2 separate regions of the Homo sapiens genome follow, and region 1 is linked to region 2. A link means that fine-mapping ties the variant in region 2 to the expression of a gene that starts in the linked region. Tissue or cell type: whole blood. Region 2 holds a variant in brackets; the other region holds the start of a gene. All regions are shown on one strand. Distances are between the middles of the regions. Region 1 holds the start of SORL1 (sortilin related receptor 1). Region 2 overlaps SORL1 (sortilin related receptor 1).

What was found.
Region 1: SORL1 starts here. The variant in region 2 is fine-mapped to the expression of SORL1 in whole blood (TOPMed, PIP 0.92).

Annotation. Positions count from the first base shown.
Region 1 is chr11:121,443,739-121,459,277 of GRCh38, reverse strand. SORL1 (sortilin related receptor 1) reads right to left here and starts at 6,964. Exons shown (of 48, transcript NM_003105.6): 1 at 6,662-6,964. The coding sequence starts at 6,946. It overlaps SORL1-AS1 (SORL1 antisense RNA 1), which reads left to right and starts at 6,311. Exons shown (of 3, transcript NR_183636.1): 1 at 6,311-6,603; 2 at 9,379-9,582. RefSeq lists silencers at 4,954-5,003, 6,848-6,897, 7,028-7,077 and enhancers at 6,128-6,177, 6,198-6,267, 6,308-6,357, 6,368-6,557, 7,948-8,007 and 2 more.
Region 2 is chr11:121,538,082-121,553,620 of GRCh38, reverse strand. It overlaps SORL1 (sortilin related receptor 1), which reads right to left. Exons shown (of 48, transcript NM_003105.6): 13 at 9,895-10,073; 14 at 8,192-8,378; 15 at 3,533-3,661; 16 at 2,951-3,036. Among named protein-coding and RNA genes, the nearest start is that of SORL1-AS1, 93 kb to the right of the region's middle. RefSeq lists an enhancer at 1,410-2,609. The variant G/C (reference allele first, on the strand shown) is at 6,691.

The DNA of each region.
Region 1 (15,539 bases), 94 kb after region 2:
AAGCTTGTGCTGTCTACACAGTAGCCAAGAGCCACATGTGGCTATTTCAACTTTAAATTCGTTAAAATTAAATGAAAGACACTTCAAGTCTTCAGTCACACTTGCCACATTTCACCTGCTCAATGGCCAGATCTGACTAGTGAACATGGTGAACAGCACAGATAGAAAACATCACTATCACAGAAAGATCTATTGAACAGTGCCACATCGGAGGGTCCAGGACGCGGCCAGGAAGATAGGATCTTCCAGCTCTTGGCTAGTAGCAGTGCTATGGGCATGGATGTTACCATTATAATAAACAGTTACCCAGTGGATAACAGAACTTTGTAATTATTTTTTAACACACTAGTGTACTTGTGATCGTTACGCAGTCCTATTTTTACGGAACCCACCATAAAATGCACAAAGCATTGGTCATGTTACAGTTAAAAAAAACTGAGCATCTCACAATAACACAGGAGGAAACTCAAATCTTGATCTTGCTCAGCAGCCCACCCTGCCTTTTCTGGATTTTAGCTTCATCAGCCACTTCAGCGCTTGAAGGCCGCCCATGCCACTTCTTCGAAGGCCCAGGGTTCACAGGTCGATAAGCCAATAAATTAGGTCGAAATTAACTGTGGCTCATTTTAAATTGAGGGAAATTGATTTTTGCATGTACGTGGCTAGACTGACTATACCATCTGCCAACAGTGTCTGGCATACCTAGAAAATGCATAGGAAAGTCCCATGCTCATCAACAGAGAATGCCTCACCCCCACAGCCCAGACCACCTCTGGAGAAATACTAATCCCTGAATATTCAAACCAAAAATGCAGTGAGCTCTCTTTTACTTTCCATCACATTTATTTAAATCCAAATAAATGGAGGAAAGGTCAATGTAATGCCCCCAGGTTTTAATACATTTTTATTCATTTAAAACATTTAATACATTTTTATCAACTCTCAATTATCTGCATCTGAATTATTGTCGCAAATTCTAAACTCCAAACTGCCTTTCCCTGAATACATTTAGGCCAGCCATTTCCCTTATCAATAGATCAAAGAATGCAAACTCATTTTAATATTCACCTGAGCAAAACTTAATTAGGAAGGTAAACGAATGCTTTAAAAAAAAGACTACATAAATACATAGCAAAAGCAAATCGATTATTTTTTGGATTACCTGCTCTCCAGATTATGATAAGACTGCCCCCTGTGTCCCTCCATTACAGTGGGTGGAACAAAGCTGGCTCCAACTATCTCTGCCCTGGGATTCAACAATGACACTATGAAGATGGCTGTCATCTCTAAGGAGGAACAGACCAAAATCTGACAATGAAATGTTCCTACAACATCCACCTTTTGCCTTGGGATGTTCGTTGCTATAAGGATCTGCCTCGTGGATCCCAAGTCTCAAAGCAATTTATTAAGCATACCATTAACTTCATTTTACAGAACATAGAGAAAACATTCTCAGACAGAACACAAATTAAAACCAAGATCCATGATCACTGTATTCTGATGCTCTTACAAGCCTGGACTCCACATCTCAAGGGAACTGTGCTCCAGCATCTCTCCAAGTTACAAGGGGGCTACATCAGGCTGCTCTCCTGCTCTGCAAGAACGCTTGAAGTGAAAGGAGAATGAGGTTTTTCTCACCTGGCCTGGAAAAAAAGTAATCATCTATTTTATATTATGATACTTCAGGTAATTTTCTAACAATTCACCATCATAATATCACAAATATAATTTAGAGCTAAAGTTAATCTCATTATTCAGGATACCAGGGACTACAGGTAACAGGAAGCCATTTATAATTCAAGTTTCCAATTTTATGTACATACATGTTGTACATGCATAGACTGTTTCTGGAAAGATATACAAAAATATTGATAACAACGGATGCCACCCGGAAAGGAGCTCTGGGTGAACAGGGGGCATGAGAGGGAAGGAAATTTGTTACCACATACGCTTTTGTACAAATTTTGTTTTGTAAACGTGCATTACCTAATCAGACAGCTTTTTATTTCATCCCTCCAAATTCCGCCTCCTTACTCTTCTCACCAACCCCTTTCCTCCATTCCTTCCCCCTCGCAAAGCCTCCACCTTCTGTGCCTCTAACCATGCAAGCTATTTATGAACTAAAAGCGGCCAGAGACTGGGCACAGAGCTCCCTAAGAAAAGACGCCAAGTGGAACCAGGAAGAGCTTTTCAAGGTCACGTCCCTTATTGAGCCAACCCAAGGCCCCGAGCAACTCTTCAGCTACATAAAAGCCAACCTGAAGCAGCACATTCTTTGCCTTCTCATCTTATTCTGGAAGCACACAGGTCAAACATCCTAACTTCAGAATCAACCAGCCAATTCTTTCCCAAGCAAGTGTATCATGGAAGAATCTACTCAAAAGAGATCTAAAGCTGAACGGTATTCCACCCCCAAAGGAGGCCTTTTGTCCCAGGGCCTTGTGCTGTAATAGACACTTTATTTTCAGTCTCAAATCAGGACACTGAATACTCCCTGGCTTCTAAAATGTAGGAATTATGAAGAGAGAGCTTGTTGGAAGGAAAATAAACCTGTAAATCCTGTTAGGCTTTGTGCTTTATTCCAAAGGATTTTTCCCCAAAACAATACCATTAGCATAAACCAGAATGATAGCCCTAAAAGGGAGGATTCTGTAAAATAGAATCCAAGCTCTTCATTGAAAATAACTCCCATATAGCACAGGCAAATCAGGGCTCCACTATCTGTAGGCCATGCCGCTTGCATCCTCACTACCGAATGAGCCATCTCATTTTCACTATCCATGTGTGGGTTCACTGTATTCCTCCTTACAAATACATTTTATATAATGTGAATGTGCTTCCTACCCTCTGGGCCTCTCTTCTTCCAGGTGTGTGGCTGGTCCACAAATACTCATTAAGGGCCTCCCAAGTGCCAGGGAAACACAAGAGAACTTGATCCATGCCCTCAAGGAGCAAACAGGAAGATGAGACAGTTGAGCAATTCTAACACAAGGCAGTAAGTGCTGCCTCCAAGCTCAGAAGAAACTCTTCCCACCATAGCCTGAGAATACCAAGAGGTATTCCTTGGATGTTAAAGAATGGAATAAGAGCTTCCCAGGCAAGGACAAGAGTTGGGGAAGATCATTTCAGGCAGAGGAAAAAGCAGGTATGATGGCGCAGACAGACAGAGCTTATGAGAAATCAGGAGGAAATTCAGTGTGGCATGAATTAGGGAATCCCTCTTCTTGGACCTGGCCTTTAAGAAGGGGCTCAACTTCTAAACTTTGCCTTTTTTTTTTTTTTTTTTAGATGGAGTCTCACTCTGTCCCCCAGGCTGGAGTGCAATGGCGCGATCTCGGCTCACTGCAACCTCCGCCTCCGGGGTTCAAGCGATTCTCCTGCCTCAGCCTCTTGAGTAGCCAGGACTACAGGCATCTGCCACCACGCCCAGTGAATTTTTGTAGTTTTAGTAGAGACGGGGTTTCCCCATGTGGACCAGGCTGGTTTCGAACTCCTGACCTCAAGTGATCCACCCGCCTCGGCCTCCCACAGTGCTGGGATTACAGGCGTGAGCCTTGAACATGGGCAGAAAAGTCCTGATATCTGCCAGCAAATTATTTTCACCCCTACAATCACATTTCAGTATCATAAATGTGCCTTTAAGTAATCATGGCAGAAGCCGGTCTCCCCACCTTAGAGAAACTGAGGAGGAAAATGGTCAAAATAACCAAGCCTAGTTTACCCAAGACATTAGCGAAGCAGAGGAAAAAGGACCGACATTGACTCCAGCACAGGGCTCTTTCTCAGATGCAAGTATTCCCCTAGAAAGCCTTCCCTTCTCTTCTCCCTGAAGGTGGTGGCCTTAACATCGCCTCTAGGCCTGCTTCCTTCAGGCAGCTTCTGCTTCCAGCCCTAACCTGTGCTGCCAGTGTCCTCTTAACCTCACTCAAAGGTCAGAGGGCAAGAAGCTGGACAGTGTCTGAGCCCACCACCCCTTATCTCTCCATCTCCCATGCGCTGCATGTCACACAGCCCGTTATCACACCATTGTAGAGTTGTGGCTGGTTTCTTGTGACCATGTTTCCTGGTTCCCATCCTGGTACATTGACATGCCTGTATCTGCATCTGCTTGCTCTCCTCCTTAAATTGTAAATTTCCTAAAAGCAGGAATGAAATTTTATTCCCCAGCTCACTGCACCTCCATAGAACCACACTCAAGTCAAGCAGTACTGTTGGAAAACATCACCATTCCTTAGGTTTAAACGTTGAAGGGGAAAGTCGTGATTACAAAGTGGAACTTGGCTTAAGGCTAAAAGTAGGACCATATAATTTATTGTCACATCTTGACACTTTTGAGAGTGAAGGGGGTGCTATTCATAACCACCAGAGACAACTTAGAAACCAGGTCTGCCCCAGGGAAACACAGAGGCAATGGTCATCCTTGCTAGAAAGATCATTCCAAATAGATGTTAGTTACTCCAGAGTTCCAAGAGGGGCACCTCAAACCCCTTCAGTCACCAACCTGTGCTTGCATTCTGAAGGGTCTGCACCAGATAGAACTTGTGGCAGAAAGCCCAGTACAGGGAAGTTCTTCCTTTTATCTGACTCAAATCCTTACAGATTCAAATTAATTCCACTTCTTATTAACCTCAGAGCAAGAGGCAACAATGGCATAGGAAGGCAGCCACAGAGAAGAAAAATCTCACCCTTGTACCCTCACCCTCCGGTTAGGAATTCCTCATTATGAGTTTGACTGCTAGTTCTCCATCCTTCAGCTGAACCAAACTCAATCTGGCTGGCCCAGAAACTCAAAAGCCCAGGGTTTGGGAGTCACTCCCAGTGAGAACAGAGTTCATGTCCAACCTGCCCCACATCCCCTGGAGCTTTTCATAAACCAAACCCAAGAAAGAAATGGCACATGTACACATATTTTTGAAACCAGAAAACTTTTTCCTCAACCTAAACTATAGCTTCAGGGGACCTGAGCACTGGGAGGGATTGTCTCCCACCAGCCCCCAACTCCCAGTTCCCAGAATGCTGATTCAAGAGCACAGCAGAGCTGGGCTGACTGCGGAGGCCCAATGAAGAAGTGGGCCACTCCTCCTCCTTCTCCCACCCTCCATCAGCCCCATGCTGGTGTCGCTGTTAAGAGCAAGGACCTTGATGACTTCTTTTTGTTCATACACATATTTGTCATATGGGGTGGGGACAGGGGGACAAGGATCTGGGCCCAAGAGGAACTGAGCATGCAGGTTCCTGCAGCCTGTGGCCACCATTAGTTACATGCCCTGGGGCACACATTCTTGCCCAGGGACCAATAGTGGAGGGAAATCCAACGCTCCCACCCAGTCACCACCATCCTTTCCCCCTTTATACCAGATCTATTTTATTTTAGAAAGGAGGTATTTCAGCAGCATTGCATAAAGACAGGGTGACTGCAGTCAAGCAAAGGTCACTGAGACAATGCAGACAAAAACTAGAGAGCAGGCCACCTTCCCGGTATGACCTTGGACTAGTCACTTCACCATTCCACGCTTCAGTTTCTTCACCAACAAAATGACACAATAGGGTGATATGTTTACAAGGTTCGTCCTGGATCCAAGGGTTGAACATTTAACTCTGTATTTCCTGAAGAAATGGCTAAAGTGAAATTAGTGAGAAAAGGCAGAACTCAGGGTAATCTTTTATTAATAATTTCTACTTCAAAAGGAACAATTTGACTCTAGAAAACAAGTGTATTTACCCCCTCCTCTGGTCCTACTTTTTCTCCCCCACCGACCTTATACTTTTGCTGATGTCAATCTTAACTGCAGGACTGGGAGTCTCATGAGGCAATAACACGGTCAAATTAATTTTGCCAGTGCTGATCCTAACCTACAAACTCCATCTGCAATTCCTCGCAGTAAGTCTGACCATAAAAGTGAAATTCACGTTACTTATGATCTAATAAACCTATTGCCTGGGTAGAAATAAATCACTTATAGAATAATAATGCCCACCAAATTTCCTGCAGTCCTTTCAAATCTCCAAGTGCCATGAGGGGTATTCCTCTCCAAAATAAAGTTATCTTGACGGGGGTGGGAGAGTCAGCATCTTGAAGGGTGGGGAAGAAGGAATGGAGAGCATCTCACACGCTCGCCAAAAATTAAAAATTAAAAATTCAGCCTTTACACACGCACACACATACACACACCTCTTGTCTGACTGTACAGAGATAGTCGACAAGCTTTCAGGTTTGCCCACTTTTATTGTGCTAATAATGCTAAGTGTGGAAACCCCCACCTCGTGCTGTTCTGTGTAAGTGTACCGCAACTGCAGGGTGCTCGCCTCCACTGCCAACTGATGATACACTAAAGAAAGCCCGTTTTTTATCCAGATGTAAAATGAAGCTGCACCCCTCCTATACCTGCCGGAAACTACATCTCTCTGCACACACCCTGGGGTAATACGCACTGCACCCGGCGAGTTACCTGGAATACGTTTACTAAATCGACAGGAAGAAGGAAAGATCAATGCGATTCAAGTGCTGACGGTTGTACTCGTGAAGGAAAAAAACAAATGCAAGCCGGGAAGTCCCCAGTGGTGCCTGCACCTAGGAGGCGACTGCAACGGATGGATGCGGGGGTGAGGAAGTGCAGGGAGAGGAAAAAACTGGAGGGAGGCGGGTTGCAAAACTGCTCACCTGTCCGTACACCTTGATGGGCTCGGGCTGCAGGGCAGCGCTCCGTTTCCTCCGGAGCGGCTTCTCGTCCGCGCGGCTCGCCCCCCTGGCATCCCCGCGCGCCCACAGCCGCAGCTCGCGCGGGTCGCCCTGCACCACGAGGAAGCCCCGGTCCTGGGGCAAGGGCGCGCTGCCGCCGTGCAGCCTCTGCGTCCAGACTTCGCAGAGAGCTCCGGGCGGCAGCAGTGCGACCAGGGTGAATAGGAACGGGAGTCGCGACTCCCTCCTGCTGCTCCGTGTCGCCATGTTCGGGCGAACGCTACTGCAGGTGGCGCCGCCGCCAGGAGAGAATGTGCAGCGCGAGGCCAGGAGAGCCGCTGGGCCGGGACCGCGCGCGCCGCTCCCGGGGCTCCAGGCCGCCCGCGCCGCTCCGGGCCGCCCCGCTGCGCCCGCCGCCGCTGCCGCCAGGTCCCGCTCGGTTCGGCGCGGCGCCGTCACGTGTGAGGCTCGCAGCGCGTCCCTTTCGCGCACTTTCTGCGCTCGGCGGCCTCGGCGGCGACTCCGGCCCCTCCCTGGCGCGGGGATGGGGAAGTTAAGGCAGCGAGCGCCGGTGGGGGTGCGTCCCTTCCCTGGCGGGCACACCTCCTTGTTCTCCCTGCAGGAATGAAGAGTTGCATGGGGCTCGCTCGTTTTCTCTGGAGTTAGTTGCGTCCTATACAGGGTCGTGTCGAGGTCGTCCTAAACCGTGGCCACTTTCCTGAGTGCACAGCCCGCAGTAGCGCCACAAGACCACCTCCCCCCGGCCCCGGCCTCATCCCCACCTCCAGGGAAGAGTCCAGAGCCACAGAATTAGCTCCTAGAACGCAACCAACAAGAGTCCAGATGAACCCGCTCTATTGGGAAACTCACAGTTTTTCATCTACTCTGGGCACCACAACGTATTTGCAGGGGCCACAGCAAAAACTACCCTTGATCAAGCTACGTGCCCCAGCCTGAAGCACAGCAAATAAACATCCTGCACAGAGGCAGTAAAAACAAGGGTACATCTGACAAAGAATGCACCACACCTGGACAATTATTACACAGCTATACAGGGTGTGCTTGCACGCACGCATGAATACCTGTGCGTGGCACAGGGCCCCAGCGGCGGCTTGCTTATGATCCCTCCAAGGTGACCAAGCACTGAGCCACCCTGCCTCAGCAGTAAAATAGACATATTTACCAGTCCCTTCAACCCACAGCCAGGAGCTAGGCAAACACCCACAGAGGAGGGAGGACACACTTTAACCCTACATTCAGCTTGACGAGCCAAACTCTCTGAACCACAGGAGATAAAACTTCTGCCATGGAACTGCTAAGGTACGCCCAAGGAAAATATTTTTTTTGCAGGTTAGTGGGAGCAGCCAAAGTCTATGTACTACTGCAACCTTTCCTATTTCATTTTATGTTTCACTGCCCTCTGAACTCAGATCCTGGTTTTTGATAAGAATAAAGACACAGCAAGCAGGGCTGAAAGGGAGACTACCTTTATAGTTGCATACAAGCTGCTGTTCAGGGGAAGGAAGGGATGGTCAGTTCAATTTTCTAAAAACATTCCTCATCTCCGACAAGCCACGGTAGCCCGATTCCTACCCCGGCCCACTCTAGTACTTTTCAGGTAGCTTAGCAAAGCCCCCTCCTCTACCTAGGACTACCACTGACAACCTGCCAGAGTCAGGCCAGCTTGCCTCATCTCCCTGAAGCCAGTATTCAACCACCCTACCCTACCCCATGCCAGACTTGCTGGGGACCTCTGCCTCAGGTTCTGCACTCTCCCACCTCCTCCCACACCCGATTTTCTCCCCAAGTCAGATGATGTCTTTCTGTCCATCTCAACATAATTACAGAACCATCCAGTTCTCCCCACCAAGCAAATCATGCATTCTCTATGTTAACCACCCTGCTTTGTTCATTATACATTGTATACAGGTATCAAAATACCACACTTTCCCCAGTGTGGTATTATTGGGGTGCCTTCATCCTGCACCCCAACTTTGATGTTATTTCAGAGGGATTGAGGAAGTGGTAGCTTGTTTACAACCCAGAGCTGGTTTTGAAGCTGAGAGGAACGCCTTGCTCATATTGTGCAATTCAGCTCTAACTCATATATATAACATATATATTTATTATATACTTATATATGTCAATTAAAAATAATAATTCAAACAATCATGCATCCTCCAAGAAAGCCACTGAACCACTGTCACCTCCCACCCCTCATCTAGATCAGCTCTGTCTGGTCAGCATCACCTTACCAGGAATGGACAACCCCATGGTCTCTCAGGACCAGCAGCAAAGATATCTCTACTCCCATTTAGCCCTCAAAGGAAAATGAAGGGAATATGGCTAAAGTGAGAACATCCTGTAGATGATTCAATTATTGGGGTTTTTCCAACATATATTTAATGAGAACCTTCTCTGCAAGAGCAAGTGTCAGAGTCCCAGCAGAAAACAGAGACAGGAGTCTCCTAAGTGTGGATTTGAAGATGGGCATCTGTTTGCCCACACAAACTGCTGGCTTAAGGTTCAGATGGCCCCTTGCACAGAAGGACTAGTAGGGCAGGGCCAGCTACTTGCTCATTTTGATGTTGATTTGCAACTTGAATGCTAGAGAATTGGTAAGAATATTCAAACATGGTTAATTAACTCCTTGCAAGCCCTCCTATCTAATCATTATCTACATTCCAAACCATTCTCAGGTAGATAATCAGCAACCCCCCAAGACTGTGCCTGCTGCACAACTACAGAACGCAGTGGAAGACACGCTGAATTCTGAGTCAGAAGGTTGACTTTCTAGCTGTGGGGACTTGGCCAAACCTCCTCAGAGCTTCAGTTTTCTCATCTGTAAAATAGAGATCTTAATCCCTACCAATCTCACAGGACTGCTGAGAGTATCAGATGAGGTAAGTATATAAAATAGCTGTGCAAATTTGTGTGAAGGCCTCCAGAGAGAAATAGTGCATGCAGGTGGCATTAGAAACATAGATTCTAGTCCTGGCTTTGCAACCAAATTATTATGTAATTTTTTGTCTTGATCATCTTGTCTCTTACGATTTCTTCATAAGTTAAATGAAAAGACACCTTTCAGCCCTGACCACTCCCAAACCTTCAGGACCCCCACTGGGTTGTGAGATAGGAGCAGCCACAGGCAAGGTCACCCAGGACAGGAGTTAGAGCTGAATCGTGCAATATGAGTGAGGTGTTCCTCTCAGCTTCAAAACCAGCTCTGGGTTGTAAACAAGCTACCACTTCCTCTATCCCTCTGAAGTAACATCAAAGTTGGGGTGCAGGATGGAAGACAGTACCATATCCCCCTCTGTCCCATCTTGCATGGCCTTGCTCGGATGCTGCCCAGCATCATGACGAAAATCAACATGCACGGAAATGTAATGATAGACTCACAGCTGTGTATAAAACAGTCTTAAGCCTGTTGTCAGACTTTAAACTGCCCTCCTCTGTCCTACTGCCCATCTTAGGCCACTGGAGATGGAGGTAGAGGACAAACACACAGAGGTCACAGTGTCCTACATTTTTATCCAGGTGGAGTCATGTTTAAAATAGCAGCAAGGACAGCCACGAAGAGGAAAAAACTCCCCAAAGCCTAATTTGACTTCTTTCTGTTCTTTCTCTTCCTGTGGCCTTCTCACATGCTCACCTCCTGGCTGGCCAACTTCTATTCAGCCTTCAGGTTTCAGAGCAGCCTCCTTAGGCACCTAGGCTAGGTTACAGCCCTCACTCTAAGGCTCTAGTCCCCTGTAGCCTTTGATACTTCCTCTCTGGTCACTTGCTTAATCTCCATCTTCCTCTTAATCTACAAGCAGCAGAATGACAAAACCAGTCTATCTCATTCAAGTCTAGACGCCCAGTGCCCAGCATACTCTTGGCACATGGTGGCACTCAATGATATTTATAGGATGCATGCATTTAAATGAAGGTGAGAAGTGACACCACCTTTGTCCTGGTGGCAATGGTTGGTTAAGGGGCCAATGTAGTTGAATCTCAGATCTTTTCTTACCACCATCTGCTTCCCACCTCGTTTTCTCCCCCAAAGCAGGCCTCTCTGAGTCACGCAACCAGACCAGAGTCATTAAAGCAGAAAAGGGACTTCCCTGCCCTTAGGATGGTAAACATTGTTCCCTCTTCCATGTTACTTTGGCCAAATAACTACCATTGACCTCACCAGCTCAGGCAAAATAGAAATACCCGCCTGCCCCCAAAGAAATAACTCCTTCTCCTGCTGTTGCCAAAATCTACTTCAGTTAGGAAAGCGTCCAAGATAATTGATGAGGTTTAAAATACAAATGCACCCAGAGCATAGAATAAGTAACTTATATTCTCACTCTTGATTAAATTAAATCCAAAGAGGAGTTTCTGGAAATAGCAGTAAGTTATTTTGCATAGCAGTGATTTACATTTGCATAACATTATAACAGCATTATCTATCTCATTCCATCGCACAGCAACCCTTTGAAGTGGGCCAAAGCGAGAATTATTGTCACCCCCATTTTACAGACCTTAAGCATTGAAATTCAGAAAGGAAGACTATTTGCTTTGCCTAAAGTTAAACAGGCTTGCTAACTTACTGTTAGTAAGGGATAAATTTGAACCCAGGCTCCCTTTTTCTGCCACATCTGATACCTCTCTTAGGAAGAGAAGAGCTGGTATTTCAAGTCCTGGGTATAGTGGAACAGCGGGAATTAGGGCAGAAAGAAGGAAAGGGAGTGGCTGTAGGCCTCACCTCCTTCACAACTCAGCCCTGCCTTAACCAGCACTGTCTCCCTTCCTAGGTACCTAGCCTAGGTGAGATGCTGTATCTGCTTGACCCTCACGCCCTGATTGGGACAAGTTAGCAGTAATGTTACAGTTACAAAGCTCACAAGTCCAGTCCTGTTTTCTATACTTTTCTAGGAGATGAATTTAGCGAGGGATTTGGTTTCCAATGTGTTTCAAAACCTGTGAGAGAGCGCAAGTTTTAGAAGGTCCCTCAGACAGGCACAGTGACTTATGCCCTTAATCCCAGCACTTACAGAGGCCAAGGCGGGAGGATCGTTTGAACCCAGGAGTTCAAGACCAGCCTGGGCAATGTGTCGAAACCCCACCTCTACAAAAAATACAAAAATGAGCCAGGCATGGTAGCACATGCCAGTAGTCCCAGCTACTTAGGAGGCTGAGTGGGGAGGATCGCTTGAGCCCAGGAGGTCAGGGCTGCAGTGAGCTGAGATCGCACCACTGCACTCCAGCCTGGGTGACAGAGAGAGACCCTGTCTCAAAAAAAAAAAAAAAAAAAGCCCTCAAGTTTTGGTTCCACTGTTTACCCTTGTCTGGCCTTCATCCCTGCGTAACTCAACTTCCTGAACTTCTAGATCAAGAAAGCATTTAGACCTTTCTCACAAAGTGTGTGAAGCGGGAACCTAGAAGTTTCTTATAATTATGTAGACCCAAGGACAAACCTCCTGACATAAGACAATGGGTTGCTGAGGGTCCCTAGGAAATTACCTCTTTCCCTGGGAATATAGAGGAGTAGGACTCCCCCTCCTGGGTTTGAAGTGAATGAGAGGAACTTAAGCTGAAGATTATTTGAATATCCCCGTGTAATTACATATCAAGGCTTGTATCTTCTTCCCTTGAGGCCTTTGCTGTACATTCACTGGGGATGCATGCGTTAGGCACAGACGAGCCTGGGGATGTGACCAATCAGCTTGGACACAGCACAGTTGAAATGTGATGCTTTGTTTCAGCAGATGCCTCTGCACTCTCTTAGGGCCAGCAAGACAGGGAAAGCAGACAGTCAGACTAGCTTTTTGGCCCACGTCTCCTGGATACTTTCCTTTTTTTTTTTTTTTTCTTCTCTTAAGACAGAGTTTCTGTCACCCAGGCTGGAGTGCAGTAGTGCAATCTCAGCTCACTGCAACCTCCACCCCCTGAGTTCAAATGATTCTCCTGCCTCAGCCTCCCGAGTAGCTGGGATTATAGGCATGTGTCATCACACCTGGCTAATTTTTGTATTTTTAGTAGAGACGGGGTTTCACCATGTTGCCCAGGCTGGTCTCGAACTCCCGTCCTCAGGTGATCTGCCCACCTCAGCTTCCCAAAGTGCTGGGATTACAGGCATGAGCCACCATGCCTGGCCTTCTCCTGGATACAGTCTAACAGAAACCTAGGATCCCCCAGACCCCTTTTCCAGTCAGAACAGATTGAGATGCTCTCCCCTCTGGCCTTGTTTATTCATTAACTAAAAGGCCACTTCTTGACCTCTTCCTGGATTTCCCCCAACTACCCCTAGAGGCCCTGAAACTTGCTTTAGGCCTCTTTTGAGATGTTGATCATGTTCTGCCTTCCATTAGAACAACGATTTTGGTACTTATCTCCTTTTCTAAATTGTAATGATGTCTTGGAGTCTATTCCCCTGTCTTGTACTTAACAGAGACAGAGTAGATCCTACAGAATTGAAGTAAAAGTGAAGGGAGTGGTGAGAGAGAATTACCCCCACCCCCGCTCCTCACACCCTTCGGCAGTTGGTTCTGGAAGGAGGAACAATTTTGAATCAATGCTCTGGGGAGACTGAATTTTTCATTCTAGTTTTCACTGCAAAGAATGGCAGAGAGGCCTCTGAGGGCCTGTCAGCACCAGGGCAGCCAGCCTGAGCAAGAAGGGGGTCCTTTCCCTGCAACATATTTTTATGCATGTCCTAGTCATCATCTGCCCAATAATAGGTTCAAATGCCTATAAAGGACACAGCCACTAACTGCAAGGAACTTGAGAAAGAGAAGAAAGATAAACATGAAACTAGCAGAAATATGTAAATACAAAAAGAATTCTGTCTTGGGGGGAAAAAAGATGAGTACTGGCTTTGGGGAGGGTGATAGGCAAACTCTCTGGAGAATAAGACGTTATGAGCTGTGGTTTCAGGTGTGTGTGTGGAAGTTGGAACGGGACAAGCAGAGAAGGCTAAAGTGCTCTGGTTCCGGGAGGAAGCAGGAAGTTATTTTCAGCGTCTGAGGAGAAGGAGGAAAGGTTTCAGGGTAGAGTGGCGGCAAGGTAGGGTGTGGGAACAGGTAGGTGGGGTGGTGCCTGCTATGGGAGGCTGGGAAGGCCAATGGAGAGAGACACCAAAGGAGAGCTGTGGGGACAGCAGAAGCTGGGGTGGAGCGCCCAGCTCGTCCCTTTCAGCACTGTGGTGCAGGGATCCGTGGAGGCCGTGCAGCCAGGGGTTCTGAGAAGTGCTTCTTCCAGCACCTGTTTCACCAGGGCCACAACACGTGTTCCAAATGCCACTTTTGCCCATCTCCTGCTACAGCTCAGGAGAAGTGGGAGGACCTGTGTATCATGCATATAATCTCCCAGAGGGTGCGACAGATCACGCCCCTCACTGTGCGCCTTCTCTAAATCCATCACCCTGGAAATTTTACGTGGTGTCATCAGCTGAATTAACACCTGTTAAAATCATCATTCCCACCAGACTCAAAACTGCAAGTGCTTTTAATGAGGCTCCACATAAAATAATACATTTTCTCAGAGCCCTTAAATTACATTAAATCCTCCACACCAAATAAATTATTGAAACTGCGATTAGAGTTTGGATCATACCAACAGACCTGCTCGGAGGCAAATTTTCAAACTGCCCAACCACCTAAGCAAAGAGGTGAGTGAAAAATTCTTCGTTTTCAATGGTTATTTCAACAGAAGCTTCAGTGCTAAATTAGCAGTGAATTTTGTGTATGAATTTTCTTTGAAATCTAACATTATGTAAATGAAAAACCCAACACAGCACAAATTAAGACTATTCTTAATTCTAAAAGGCTGCTATTCTGTGATAATGACGCCATGGAATACTTACAGTCTGCCAACCATGGAGTGTGGTTCCTGCTCCCCCATCTGTCTTGGATGCCTCCCAGCAGGGGGACACCCACCGTGTCCTCATTTCTTTATCCTGCCCACTGAAGTCAGATCCTGTCCACCCTTCCACCCCTCTTCCACCTCATAATTTAATCTTGCCCAGATCATTTAATCACCTAAAATGGAACCAGAGATTGAAATGCGCTTAACCTGCATCCATGTGCAGTGTAAAGTACTAGAGGCGTGACGTCAGAAGCCCACTCACCTGGGTTTATATCCGGCTCTGCCAGAGACCCGCTGGATCTGCTCAGGTACTTTCTCAGAGCCTAAGTTTCTTCATCCGTAAGTAAATATGAATTACCTACATCTGCAGGTTTAAAGGATTAATTGAGATTTTACATGTCAATGGTTTAGAAAGTGAACGCCTGGCACATAAAACTTGTTTAGCTAATGATGCCTATTATTATTGAGCAAAGCTCGGGTTAGGTATTGTTGGTAAATCAATTTGGCCATTCAGCAATTGTTGGGTTTTTATTCAGGTTTGTACATGTCCCTTCAACCTCACTACCAGGTGATATGTTGCTATAAAAACTGAGATTAGTTTTTATAAATTAAACCAGGTTTCTCTCTCTCTTTCTCTCTGACACACAGACACACACACACACACCCACGCGCACACACACACACACATTTCTTAGCAAGCAGGCTAGAGGCCATCACACATCCTGTACCAGAAGGCTCAGGGCACCCCTAAAACCCTTACAGGAGAACCTAGACCCCAAACAGATGGAGCAGTGTTCTGAGGCCAGGATCCACCAAACTCCTGGTCAAATCAGGGAACAGTTTCCCTTTAAGTGGAGAGACAAAAGACCAGATGAATTCAACAGCTCTGGAGGAGGAATCAGCCTGCTGGGTCTGCTGGATTCTTACATCTTGTCCAAGCAAGCCCACTCCAGCTATGTTTCTTGAGCAGCGCTAATTTCACCAATGAAAAATAATAACTAATATTCCTTATGCTAATTTA
Region 2 (15,539 bases):
AAGTCACACTTGCCAACCTAATTACACCAATCGCCCTGTTCTCCCTCCTCACGTGACTGTATCACCACAGCATCATCATCTTGTTGACGAGAGACCATTAGTCACTGAAGCTTTGTAACTAAGCTCTCTAATCAATTTGCTCACTTATTCATATTGTTCACAACACCATATGGCAATTCTATGAACCTCTTAGATCTCCAAAATAATACTAATAATGCATTTGTTCTTGGCTATTTACAAAATGTTCCACAACATAATCACCACAAAAATTCTGTTTCTACTCAACAAATATAAATTGTGTACATATTGTGTATAATGTGCTTACTACGTATCGGGTATTGTTTAAGACCCACAACAACTGCCTGATGGTAGAACTCTTGTTAACCAAATTTTACAAATGAGAAAACTGAGACCAGAGAGGTTAAGTAACTCACCCAAGGTCACACAACTAGCAAGTGGCAGAACCAAGATTGGAACCCAGGCACTCTGGATCCAGAGTCTATGCTTTAACCACTACACTGTGCTGCCTGTTATGATACAGACGCTACCGTGGATGATTTTTAAGATGTAGAAATGAAGGTCCTGAGTGCTGAAGATACTTACCTAATGTCAGACAACTGGAAATAGGAAGACCCAGTACACTGTCTTGTCCACTTAGGGAACGGCTTGGGAAACATCCAGATTCTTCCCCAGGAGTGGACACAAGCAGCACACCAGCATCTGTGTCTAAAGTGTGCATCTTGACAGTGTGTTGCATATGGGACCAAGATGCAAATCGGAATTCTTTTGCTGCATGCCTGGGTTAGCCATTCCTGCCCACTTCCTGATTCCATACACTCAGTGACTTAACATGTACCACTCACCTTCTTTATAAAAGCTGTAATATAGATAATGCATCAAAAAATAAATCTACCTACAATTTTTAATAAGGTAAGTTTTCCTTCTTTTCCTTTGGTTCCAGGTCACTTTAGAAGTATCTATGTTACCATCACATGGTAACCTACCTCCCCTTTTGGTTGTCAAGGAAACCTTCCCGCTGTCATTCCCAGGGAGGGGGCCAGCTAAGGTATAGGGACATGAAAGCTACATTTGCAGCAGCAAGGCTTTTGCCCCACATCTCTCTCCAGCATCTATAAACCTCATTCTGTCACTCTGGGCTTTTTTTTCCTCTAAGAAACTAATACCCATAAAGTAGAACCTGAATCCAGAAATACGTGTTTTAGGATTATGTTCAGAGCAGCATGCGGCATTCCAGCGCGCAATGCTTAACCTGGAAAAGGAATGGAATTCTTGGCTGGTCCTGGCCAAGGAATGTGTGTTTTCATAGTAATTGTAAAGGAAGAAAAATTCTTGCATTTAAAAAATCCTTCCAGATGCCCAGATTACCTCATCTTTGCAAAGATATTACGGCCCCCATTAGTCCTGTGAAAGCATCTTTTTCTTTCCTGGTATATCCCTGCCTCCTATTCCATGCCTTTTTTTTTCTCTCTTTTACATAGGAGGTGGCCCACAATGGAATGAGATTTCTCCACTTCGTTCCCTGTTCTATCTTCCAGTAGAAGAGAAAATAGCTTTCCTGCCAGTTTAGATGGCTTTAAACAAACTGTTTTGTCCCTTGCTGAATTATCTTCAGAAATATTTATTACAAAAGTAGGCACTCCAGCCCCTCAAGAGCAATCACTCAAACCCTACTAACCCACGCCCTCATCAATAACAGCTCTTGTGAGGGAAATATTTGAATATTATCTGCTCATTTGTTGGAATTTGCTGAAGTGGTGGTTCTTTTCAAGCCTCCATAGTGAGGTATGTTAATTACTCTGGTAATGATGAAAGATTAAATTAAGGGACTAACGAACTTAGCATGAAAAACACCAGGGCAAGCTGGCGGCAGTGAGCAAAAGAGAGGGCTGCCCTGCCCTGCCTGTGGAGACCACACACTTCTTTCATGATTCATTCGGTGCTTATGGCTGTCCACGTAAGACACCACCACCCACCACAGACGGAAGTTAACTCCAGCCATTTACCTTCACCAAGAGGTAATGGGCAGGAAAGAGGGCACAGAGGGAATAAAGAAGCTTTAAATGAATAAGAACTGGAAACAGAGTGAAGAAAAGCAACTAAGAGATTATTTTTCAAAGTATCATAATTTCATGTCTCTGTGGTAAAGACCCCATGTTACATCACCACTAAATCTAGCAGAAACGTGTTTTAGAACACACTATACCTTTATAGCATGTGAATCATTTCAGAGAAGTTTTTCTTAATTAGCATGCATAATGATTATCTAAAATAGTGAGAATGATATTTATTTGCCATTTGGGCAATGTCCAATGAAGAGCATGGGGCTTAGAGTCTGAATTTCAACTTTGTCACTTACTAGATGTGTGACCTTAAGCCATTTAACCTCCTCTGAACATGCTTCCTCGTGAAAAAGTAAAAAACAAAATTGATAATATCTGCTTCCCTGAGTTGTTAAAAGGGTTAAACTGGCAACACATAAAAAGTACACTGAAATCTATAAAATTCCATTAAAATTTTAGTTACAGTTAGTTTTATTATAAAATTAACATAGACTACTTAGCTACTTCCTAAGAAGTCACACACCTCTTTATACTCAACTTTGACAAACAGATTAAGGAACACACAAAAGCCTGTGGGGATCTTTCTACCCCAGTGGATGCTGAATAAATATTTTTCAATTAACAAAGGGATTTCCCTCAAAGAAACTGAGCTGACACAAAGTACTTTCCATTCCTAAAAACGGGTATGGCTATGTACAAGTTCAGTGTGGAAACCAACCTTAGGGAAAAGAGGAAGCCCTGTGATGCTTGTGACGGCCATTGTTTTTCTCCACTCAATTAAAGGAGCCACAAGCCCGGACTTGGGTGAGATCGTGATACTGCTTCAACCATGTCTCAAGAAATGAAAGGGAAGAAACCACCTCTCTTACCTGCCAGGGGACAGGGGACCAGCTCTCCTTCCAGTCGCGCTTCAACATCTCCTCCGCTACAAGTGTCCCCAGAAATCTTCCGGTAGCTGTCACCCCACCCCAAGAGCAAGAGGTCAGAAACATGGAAGAATAGCCACAAAGGCATCCCAGCTGGGAATACACTTACTACCCACGGCCAGTAGAGTCCATCCACTCATTTCTCTTTAGAACTAGAAAGAGGATGTTCGTAGTTCTGAGTCAGTTCTCCTTATAATTAGACTAGGCAGGCCCAGACAATTTAGGGCACTGTCCTGGCCAAGATTTTTAAATATATCTCTTGAATACATTCCTCTGAAGATGTTTCCCTGCTGAAGTTGATGACTTAAGATATTCCTAGAGTTTCAGGGATGCTTACAGACTTGCAATGTGGAGGTAGGAGAGTTTACAAATACCATAATTTATAATGTTGCCCAAACTACTTGCAGGCTGTTAACTTGGAATTCTAGAATTTCGAGTGTAGAGCAATCCAGACGGTCCTCTATGCTCTCTCGCTCCATGTGCGGACCGCTGAGAACCTGACAGGGCAACCTCTGTGATACATACCCTCTCGTTCTCCTGTAAGTAGAACCCACAGGGCAAGGCACAGGAGGGGAGTATGACTTTCCAGAAAATTCCGGATCTGGAACACAAACCTCTAATGACAAATCTTCACTCATCTTGAAACCGAAGTCACTAAAAAGGCAATTGGGCTTTGTTAAGGCCACGGTTTTATACATTTCAGGCATTCCTGTACCAATTCTGCTGACTTTACCTTACTACTTTTCACTTTTATTATAAGTTATTTAACATGTCCCTTTAAAGAATATTTACTTTTTATATAAAATACATCTTCAAAAGAAGATTTATATCAGAACCACAGTTGGAAAAACACAATCACATGCCATAAATAGACCAAAAAAAAAAAAAATCATCATGCCAAATCAAAACAGTATTAAATTTTAGCCAGATCCAGTTCCCAATTTAAGACTCTGGACCTGCCCTCTCTGTTAAAAGGGATTAGGCAAATGTTACAGTTACTAGCAACCAATGAGACGTTCTTTTTGACAGAATCTGAAGAAGTAAAAGAGGAATTTTAAAAGAATAACCTTTTTAAAAAATTATTTGGGGCCGGGCATGGTGGTTCACGCCTGTAATCCCAACACTTTGGGAGGCCAAGGCAGACATATTGTTTAAGCCCAGGAGCTCCAGACCAACATGGGCAACATGGTAAGACCCTGTCTCTACAAAAAAGAATAAAAAAAAATAGCCAGGTATGGTGCTGCACACCTGTGGTCCCAGCTACTTGGGAGGCTGAGGTGGGAGAATCATTTGAGCCCAGGAGGTCAAGGCTGTAGTGAGCCGTGATTGCGCCACTGCACTCCAGCCTGGGCAACAGAGCAAGCCCCTGTCTCAGAAAAAAAGAAAAAATTTGACTAGGGGTTCAATGTTATTTAAGAGTATATCCACATACTAGCTAAGTCACCCTGTACTTTGAGATACAGTAGTTAGGTTCATGAGACCTCTTGTGATCTGGAGTCACATCTGCCAAACCTCCCAGCTTGAAGGGCAGCATCCTGGAGTAGGAAGCAGGAGGCCTCAGTCGAAGACGATTCTAAAACGAGGTGACTGTACTATGAATGTTCTAAGGCCCTTCCAAACCTGTAAATTCTATAATTCAATGAATTACAGAATATATTCAAAGAATTATAGAACAGAACATATATTCCACGTTCATGTGCTCTACCAGAACACATTTATTTGCTCTATTCAATTCAACAAATATTTAGGTCCGGCATGGTAGCTCACGCCTGTAATCCCAGCATTTTGGGAGGCTGAGGCGGGTGGCTCACTTGAGGTCAGGAGTTCTAGACCAGCCTGGGCAACATGGCAAAACCCCGTCTCTACTAAAAATACAAAAATCAGTTGGGCATGGTGGCACGCACCTGTAATCCCAGCTACTCTGGAGGCTGAGGCAAGAGAATGGCTTGAACTTGGGAGGCAGAGGTTGCAGTGAGCCAAGATTGCACCACTGCACTCCAGCATGGGTGACAGAGTGAGACTCTGTCTCAGAAAAACAAAAAACAAAAAGAAAAACTCCAAATATTCATTAAACATTTCTGACACAAAAAGTATTAACAGATACACAGAGAGTGATTTGTGTGCATTATATCATAATCCACATTTAATAGTTTGTAAGAATTGTTCAAAAGGCAGCAGTTTTGTCACTGTATCAAATGTGCCTCTTTCATTACCTCAGTTCGTTATTACTGAACGGCCACTTTAAATCTTTTTAGGAACCAGATAAAGCATTAGCTAATTACTTATTTGCCTCCAATAGCAAAGCACTCTTCCTGGGCAGCTTTCTTTGACCATAGGTCATGACCTAGTGGACTCTGAGAGTACTTGGGAGGCCCAAGACTAGATTCTTCCCCTCCCAAAAAAGTGCAAAAGATTGCAAAAGGCCCCATCATACATTTAAAAGTCAATGTTGTCTCCTAAAACTTGTGTTTTAATTATATGTGTGTATGTATCTACACGTACATATGTAAGTACAGGGTCATAAGAGAAAATGTATTATTTACTAGGGGTTGCAGTCAAGAATGTGAAAGCTGTATGACTTGGCAATGTCGAGAAATATAAGAACATAAAAGAATCTACCATGGAAATCAGGAAACATGGGCCAATAGCTGGGCTTCCCAGTGTGGTCTAAAAGGACTATCAGAAATAACCTGGTGTTCAAACACAGTTGTCAACCAGTACCTGAACTAATGGAAAGATACTATAAGCTTGCTCATTCTCATCTCATTTCCTGACGTCCATCTTGGGACCATTTTCCTTCTCAGTGCCATAGTCCAATGCCATCAAACATCTCCAAGAGCCATATAGTTGGGCTGGCTGCCTTCCAGCAGCTACAGCAAGCAGAGAAACAATTGGGAGGGGTGGAGCGGGGAACAGCTGACATCCATATACCCCTTACCATTTCAGAGGGTCATCACCCCACGATCTCATTTGGCCTGCAACCCAACTCCACAAGGGGCAGAGCAGGTGGTTTTACTGGTCTACAATAAAAACACTCCACATACAAGCAGGGTGAGCATACAGCAGGTTCCAGCAAGGCAGATGGGGTGGGCATGGTAGACCAGCAGGTCCCAGGCCAGTTTACCCAGGAGGGCACACCAAGCTCCATTTCTTTTCTTGTGTGTGTGATTTTTTTTTTTTTTTTTTTTTTTTTTTTGGTGAGGGTTGGGGAAATGTAGGGCAAGAGAGAAAATTTTAATGTTATTTGTTTTTAAGCCTAAATGTCATGAAAAAAAAAAAAACCCCAAAGATTTGTTAGACTTTCTTACCTATTTTTTACTTAGTCTTAATTTTATTTTGAAGTACATATTGGGGATAGGAAGAGGGGAGAGAGAGGGCACTATGATCTTTTCAGGGATTAGGACCTCTCCAGTCTCAAGCTGGTCTGGGGAGGACTACCTGGAGCCAACAAAGCTCTCAGATTAGATTAGACTATAATGCAAAAGTGTGTAAGAAAGAGCAGAAGGCAAACAGCATGGAACTGAAGTCACCAAGAACATCAGCCAGCCCTGTGCTTTTGCTGTTAAAGAGTCTGTGTCGTTACCTTGGGAGCACACACCTTTCTAAGGAAATGACTGTCTTCTCTGTTCTAAGCCTTGCTGCTCAAAGGGCGAATGTGCAGATAAGCAGCATCCACATCTCTT[G/C]GGAGCTTGATGGAAACGCAGAGCCCCAGAACTCCTGAGGCAGAATCTGCATGTGACCAAGGCAGAATCTGCAAGTGATTCATATGCACCTTAAAGTTTCAGAAGCACTGGTTGAGAACAGAAGTGGCCAAACCTGGTTGGCCATTTTTGTAAATAGAGATTTACTGGATCACAGCCACGTTCATTCCTCTAGAGCTGCTTTCATTCACCCATGGGCACTGCCATGGGCAAAGTGAGGAGTTGTAACACAGATCATAGAAACCATATGGCCTACAAAGTCTAAAACATTTACTATATGACCATGTTCCAACCTCTGGTCTAGAATACATCAGAGGTTTCTGGCTTTAGTCAAGACAAGTACAGCTGCCCAAAGCAAAATCTAGTTCCTCTGTGCCTCAGCAACCACTGAAATATGAGTTGTGTATTTATATTAAATACCCATGGCTCTCTTGGTGCTCCTGACTAAACTACAATGATTTCATGCTGAATTACAGACTACAGTGACTGTCCAGGAGCTCTGAGATCCTCTGTACTCTGCCACTAGAATCCTCTTCCTACAGCTAAGCTCTGTTCTCATCATCAACTCTCCTCAAAAGCTCCTACAGCTAAGCTCTGTTCTCATCATCAACTCTCCTCAAAAGCCGCTGAAGGCCTCCTCCTAATTATAGAATAAGGTTCATCCCCTCTAAGGTCTTTCTCCCCTACTGTATTCTATCTTTTCAGCCTCATCTCCAATTGTCATCCCCATGTCATACACCCAACAAGGCATCCCAATTCAACTCCCAACCACACCCTGCTGCCTCTACACCTGACTGTTGCAGACACATGGTCTCAAAACACTGCTGTCTGCAAATATTGATGCTCCCTGAGAGCCCAGCTCAAACAGCACTTCTTCCAAAAATCTCCTCATTCTCCAACAGCAATCCACAGCCCTCTCCTTCCTTTCAATAGTCACAATAAAAGTACCAGTTCCTCCTCTGAGGCACTTGCTCTCTTCTATCTCCTGTGCCAATTAGCCATGCACAAATCACTTCTCCTACTTTTAGCATTCGCAGCAGTGCCTTGGATATTTTGCTTAAGGAATAATAAATGATGCAAACACACACACATATACACACACTAACATCCCCTCGTTTCAGATAAAGAAATAAATCCCCTCTAGAATAGGGTCCTAAGGAGAAGGATTAAAAACAATGAAACCTTCAGCATATTTTTGGGTTACCCTAATAGAAATAAATCCCAGAGCTATCTATTCCTGTAGAAATAGCTGCAGCTCTCCTAGACACCTCTACCGCATTACCTGGCTATAAGAACTAAAGAAAACAACTTACATGAAACATGCTTAGCACAGTTCCTGGCACATAAAAGATGCTTCACAAATACTTGTTTCCTTCTATTCCCTTCCTTTGCTCAGGGAAAGGGACCATGCCTAATCTCTTCCCCCAACACTGCTGAGTGAATAAAACACAACTCAGTCCCCAGCCATCAAAGAAGAACTGACCACTCATAGTCCTCCCGGGTGCAGGAGCAGTTGGACACGACCACCGGCCTGTCAAAGTCCTCTCCATTGAAGCATGTGGCATGGGGGGTCCGCCGTTTGAAAACAGTCTTGTGTCCCAGCAAACACTCATTCCCCCGCTCATCAGATGGTGACCACAGCTTGTAGTCATTCTCTGTGCAGGGAACTCCTAAAGAAAAAGGAACACAGCACGAAGCATTAGAGGCAGGCCCATGTAGGGTTTCCTGCTATGCCTCAAGGTGCCTGGCCTCAACCCCCACTTCCTGTCTATCTGTTGCCACCCCGCAAGCACACAGACCCTCCAATCAGCTTGTTTTGAAGCTGGGCAGCCCTATGCCAATGAAAAGGATACCTGAAACGCAGGCATCTGCCTGGAAAAGTTGGAAAGAAGCAAGCCACCTTTAGGCACTATCCAAATTTCCGAAACATTACAGAAGAGTCAGCAGTGCCCTTTAGAAATGAGTACTCAGAAGTGTTTCTCTCCTAGAGAACTAGGGAACAGCTGAATCCTTGATGAGCAATACCATTGGGGGTTAATGTTCCTGGCCTGCTTCCTCAGGCAGTGAGGGCACATCTGGTAGTGTGGCCCGAAGGCAATGGAGGGCTCGCTGGCCCTACTTGAAGGTACAGGATCTCCATGGAAAGAGGCTGGAAAATGCTAAGATACCTTGCACCATCACTCCATCTGCCACGTTCATCGAAATGTCTAAGTAGGGTGCTTTCTACAAGCATTCCAAAGTATGCCTATGTCTATGTTGGCACTTTGTGTCTCTTATATATGTGTCTTCAGTCAGATTAGATACTACCCGAAGCTGATACACAACCTTTGACTCAATGCCATGCAAATCAGTAAACTTATTAAACTCCTACAGACTGTTAGGCTATCAGGCTTTCCAGTAGGTACAATACAAATATGCACAGGGCAAGTTCTTATCTTTAAGGGCTTTATAATCTAGTCAATGGAAGGTGAAACACACCGAGTGACAGACACAAAGTTATGCATACACTTATGTTCTGGACATAGAGAAGAAGGGAGACGTCTTCTGGTTGGGATATCAGCCACAAATGTGTTGGATCCTGAGATATGAAAAGGATTTCGAGTAGGGGAGGCTGAACGGGTGGAAATGAGAAGAAACAGGGCACTCCGGGCAGCTAGAATCAGGTTAGCCAAGGCTGAGAGGTAGGAAAGGGTAAGATAAGATGGGGAAGCAGGGAGAGGATGCTGAAGAGTTTCACTTCTCCCTGCATACTTATGCATCCTGTATCTAGATTAGCAGATCACAACTAGATCCTAGATGGCTTTGAGAGGACCCTGTGTCGCTTGGCACACTGACTTACAGACAGTCAGGCACACTCACTGAATACGTCCAATTGGCACTGCTGATTTGGAAATATGTTTTTCATTCATGCATTTATCTACATATTCAGCAGACATATATTTAAACTTCTTATGTGCCAGGAACTGCATGAGGAAACTAAGATACAAAGAATAGCACCCAGTCTTACTAAGAAGAATTGAGCAGGCCTTCAATTACCTCCCTATGCTTTTTGCTAACTCTTATGGGCCCATCTCCCCCAATGAATGTCAGGCTCTTCTGAGTACACAGTATCTAAGCTGGTGCTTTGCACATAACAGGAAGTCCACGCATATCCATGTGAAAAGGTCCAAGGAGGCAGCAGCTTACCCAAGGCATCCGTGGCATTGACCTGGAGGATCAGCCAGCTGTGGACATTCTCTTTGTTCGAGCCAAAGATGGTGAAGACAGTGCTCTTCTCCCCAGGTTCTGTGAGGAGGCCATACACAAACACTGGCTTCTCAGAGAAGATGAATGTTTTCCAGGTCTCCCCTTCATTGGTACTGTATCTGCCCAAATGCAAGTAAGAGAATCCTTGCAGTGAAAGTCTCTAAGGCAAAGGCTTGGTTTCCATATAACATTCACCAGGAACAGGAACCAGGGCTCCTTGGAGAAATGGCTGATCCTGGGCTAAGGCAGGGAAAGTTTAAGGAAATGCTCAGAAATAAATGCAGTCATCTCAAAAGAACACAGGAACCAGCCTGATGGGGCTCCAACTGGCCGAATTTAGGAGAATTCAAACATAAAAAAGAAAAATGATGGTAACAGATTACACATTGAATGAAAATAGGACATGGGTCTCTAATGATACTAAAAGACAGAGGAGCAAAAGAGAAATTTTTTTCTTTTTTTTTTTCTTTTTTTTTGAGATGGAGTCTCACTCTGTCACCCAGGCTGGAGTGCAGTGGCATGATCTCGGCTCACTACAAGCTCTGCCTCCTGGGTTCACGCCATTCTCCTGCCTCAGCCTCCCGAGTAGCTGGGACTATAGGTGCCCGCCACCACACCCGGCTAATTTTTTTTTTTTTTGTATTTGTATTTGTAGTAAAGACGGGGTTTCACCATGTTAGCCAGGATGATCTCGACCTCCTGACCTCGTGATCCGCCTGCCTCGGCCTCCCAAAGTGCTGGGATTACAGTCATGAGCCACCGTGTCTGGCCCCCAATTTTTTTCTTATATTAGAATGGCACTTAATAAGGGTTGGACACAACAATATATATATTATAATATAATATAATATAATTACAGAAAAATTATCCCCACTGCAATAACTAAATCACACAAGGATCATCACTGGATGCTAAAACCATTCGGTGAAAGTGTTGGGGCCAGGATGTTCAGATGATCTGAACAGACAAATCATTCACTACAAATGGGGAAATAAAATTTTACAAAACATAATCTTACAATGAATGATCAGAGAGTCACAATCTTAACTAAACATCATCAATAGCAGGACAACTTGATATTAGGTGCCTCCTGAATAAAGCATTGAGAATAACACATCCTCTGTGTACTATTCTATACAATTGGACAAATCCAAAATGTGGGATATTCTACACGATAACTGCTCCAGATTCTTCAAAAAAAAATCAAGGCCACAAAAACCAAATAAATAAAGAAAAAAGGCAGATAATGTGTTATAGATTTTAAAAGACTAAAGGAGTATAAAAGCCAAATGCAATGACTAAACAAATTTGCAATGTGTAAATCCAATCCAGGATTTAGTTCAGGACTGGCTAAATCCCGGATTGAAGGGGAAAAGTGGCCATAAATAATTTGAGACAACTGAGAAAATATAGTCTATAAGTCATACCGAGTTCATGTTAATTTTCTTAGGTGTGAGAATGGCATTGTGATTATATAGGAAAATGCCCTTATTTATTGGAGATACACATTTAAGTAGCTGTGAGGGAGCATGATGTCTGCAACTTTCTTTAAAATGATTCAGCTAAAAAATAATGGATGGATACACAGGATAGATAAATAGACCAATGATAGAAGTAGAGCAAACCGGCAAATGCTAACAATTTGTGACTCTAGGTGAAGGTTTCATGGGTGTTCGTTATACGGTTTTTCCAACTTTCCCGTGGTCTTAGAAATTAAAAAGTAAAAAGTTGAAGGAAAGTATATACTGAGGAAAGTCTCCAAGACAGACTATAACAGAAGCAGGAAGCCAGCCCTTGAAAAACTAAGCAGCATTTGAGTAACTGCACTGATTTTACATTATCTTTGGTGTCGAAGAAGGAGAAGAGGGACGGAGAGGGAGGCAAGGAAGAAAATCTGCCCAACACTTGTTTTATCACCCAGTGAGCTGGTGAGACGCTTGACATGAGAAATCACTCAATTCAAGCCTTCTTTAGAATCACAGGGCTTCTGGGTCCTTCTTAAATCCAAATTATATGCAAAACTTTTTCTTTCACCTTTCTCATGTTTTTGAGATTTTAGTTTTACACCTTTGGGATTCTAATCCTTGACAGAAATCTTTTCGTGACATCATTCTATCCAAACACTTCATCTCATATTGAGATTATTAAAATCGATTTGGCTAGGCGTGGTGGCACATGCCTGTAATCCCAGCACTTTGGGAGGCCAAGGCAGAAGGATCTTTTGAGGCCAGGAGTTTGAGACCAGCCTGAGAAACATAATGAGAACCACATCTCTACAGAAAATTTTTTTAAAAAATTAGTCACGTGTGGTGGTGCCCCCTGTGGTCCCAGCTACTTCTCTGGAGGCTGAGGTGTGAGGATTGCTTGAGTCCAAGAGTGTGAGGCTGCAGTGTGCCATGACTGCACCACTGCAGTCCCACCTGGATGACAGAGCGAGACCCTGCCTTAAAAAAAAAAAAAAAAGATACTGCTACAAAAAGGCTAGGGGTTAAACCAACTGGTAGGGTTACAAGGCAGAATAATAAATGTCAATGGGAGACTAAGTAATCTCCCCCTACAAATCTCTCACAAGGGGAGAAATCTCACCTGGCAGATATGCTTTTGGTTTAAGAAAATTTTGAAACAGATATTTGGATAAATTAACTCATTCAGTCTCCTTCTTGTAACCAGTGTGAAGCTAAAGGTTTATATTACTTTTAAAGCAAACTGAACCAACAGAGTCAACCTATTATCCAGACATGATGGCAGCCATCTGCCCACTCAGTGGTAATGCTAAAGTCTATCTATGTGTACGTTGCCAAGTTAATTCTCTTTAAGAGCTCCTCGAACCCAACATAACCTCAGGAAATGAATCACCCCATTTCTTGAGAGTTCCCAGAGGACTCTGACAATAACTCATTAATGAAATAACAAGCAGGTACATGACCAAGCATAGCTTGTATCTGAAAATACACTGCTCATTTAGAAAATGGTGCTCTTCAGAATTTTGGGGAAAAGGCTCTTGTCTTATCAACAGCAACAGTTAAGAGAACACGCATTTTGGACTGAATTCTGACCCCCAAAGGAGAACTTGTATTGGTAAAAGTAAGTGACAAGAACCTTGTGAAGAAACAAAGTCATCTTTGCATTCTTTTTTTTTTTTTTGTATTTTTAGTAGAGATAGGATTTCACCTTGTTGGCCAGGCTGGTCTCAAACTCCTGACATCAAATGATCCACCCACCTCAGCCTCCCAGAGTGCTGGGATTACAGGCGTGAGCCACCGCGTCTGGCCCATCTTTGCATTCTTAAGTTATGAAAGAGGATATAGGGCACTAGCCTTTAGGAATGAAGAAATCAAACTGTTCAGATAAAAATATAGACATAATCCCAGGGCCAAAAACTCTCAAGAAGATGGGAAGGTCAGATAATATAATAATAAAACATAATATAACCACAGATACTCTAAAAGGAAGAAGTGTGGTAGATACCCAACTTAGGACTCTAGCAGGCAGCTACCCAGAAAAGTTCCTGATGAGTTCAGGTTTCTAAAGAACATATTCAAGATGGGAAAAAAGGTCATATAACCAAGAGCAACAAATTCAGTTACTGCTAGCTAATTCCAGCTGTAATTCTCATAGCCAGTAGTCTGTTGGAATAGTAGCAAGATAAGTTCAAAATGAATCAAGGTTTATGTTTCAAATTACCAAAATAATTGGCAGACTGGTGGGTCAGTGGATTGGTTATCTGGCAAGTTCTATAAAGAATTAGAAAGGAATAGGATCATTGCTCTGATGGCCAATAGAATAAATAATAGCAGACATAATCATATGTATCAATTTAAAAAAACAGAGCACTTGATACACATTCATCCATTCGTTCATTCATTCATTCATTTATGAAAACCATCACCCAGTTCTTCCTATCTTTACTAGAACTTTGAATTGAAAATACTTTATGTTTTCTGGCTGATTGGAAAGCTGAAAACAAAAGAAATAAAGACTTCGTTAGTAAAAAAAAAGAAAAAAATCTTTGAATAACAACATAGTAGTAAAGCTGGGTCTAAAAAAAATAGAAAAAAAATTCTATTTTGCTTTTATCTTTATCAAGGAAAATAATCTTCAAATTGGACAAGAAAAACCATTTAAGTTAAAGGAAAATCAGTACAAAATAAATTCTAAGGAACTGAAAGACTTAAAGATAGGATGATTATAGCATCCTTTTCAATAATCTCTAGGAGAATTATGAAGAACAAAGATCTCAAAAACTAGAATAGGGAAAATACTTTTATTTCCTTAATGAAGAAAAGGTGGTTTCAAGAATGGATTATGAAACAGTTTATTTGAGAGCACTCAGACGAAAAGGAGGTCAAGGCTAAGAACCCAAATGGTTTCACACACAAGTCACAACAGACTAACTCCATTTCCTTTCCTCGTGGTAATTCTTGATTTGAAAAACAGGACAATGACACAGAACATTCTTTTTTTCATGAAGATCTTTGTGGACCACGCAGTCAGATAAAATTCACTGATGGTAAAATAAGCACATCCCAAGAGTGCTGACGTATGGTTTGATCTCAACCCAAGATAAGACTTCTAGTTCTCACAGAGCTCAACACATCTGTCAATGATCTGGATAGGGATCTGGAAGGCGAATCTGCCAAATTTGCAAAGGGTAAAAGGCTAATTGTATAAATAATATAATAAATGCCGGGGCCAGGCACAGAGGCTCACGCCTGTAATCCCAGCACTTTGGGAGGCTGAGGCGGGCGGGTCACAAGGTCAAGAAATCGAGACCAGCCTGACCAACAAGGTGAAACCCCGCCTCTACTAAAAATATAAAAATTAGCTGGGCGTGGTGGTGCATGCCTGTAATCCCAGCTACTCGGGAGGCTGAGGCAGGAGAATCGCTTGAACCTGGGAGGCGGAGGTTGCAGTGAGCCAAGATGGCACCACTGTGCTCCAGCCTAAGCGACAGAGTGAGACTCTGTCTCAAAAAAATAAATAAATGCCAAAAATACAATTCAAACCAAAAAAAAATAAGCAAAAATAAAAATAAAGCTCCACATGTAGTTTCAAAAACCTGTTTGCTCAAATACAGGACGGGGAACATCCGTCCTGTTGATTGATTGATTGTATAATAAGATCCATAAGAAAGAAGGATCTCAGGTATTTTAGTTAAAGTGAACTCAGCCTACTGATACCAGTTAAAAGATTGATAAATCTCAAAATCATTATGCTGAGTAAAAGAAGCCAAATACAAAACATACAAACATGAAATTCTGGAATAGGCAGCTACAGTGATAAACATACCAGTGGTTGCCTGTAATTGGGGCAGGGGTTTGGGGGTGGAGAGCACTGACTGGAAAGGGGCACGTGAGTATTTTCTGGACTGATGGAAATACTCTACATCTTGACATGCACCCTTCAGAACTGATTAAATGGTGTAGTCAATATCTGAGCATCCTGTGGTATGCAAATGATACCTCCTCTCAAAAAAAAAAAAATAGGAGCCACCAGTTTGAGATGGCTGTTAAAAATGGAAACACTGTCAGAGGTTTTTATTAATAGATACAGAGTGTTCAGAATCATGAAGACAAAATCTCAAC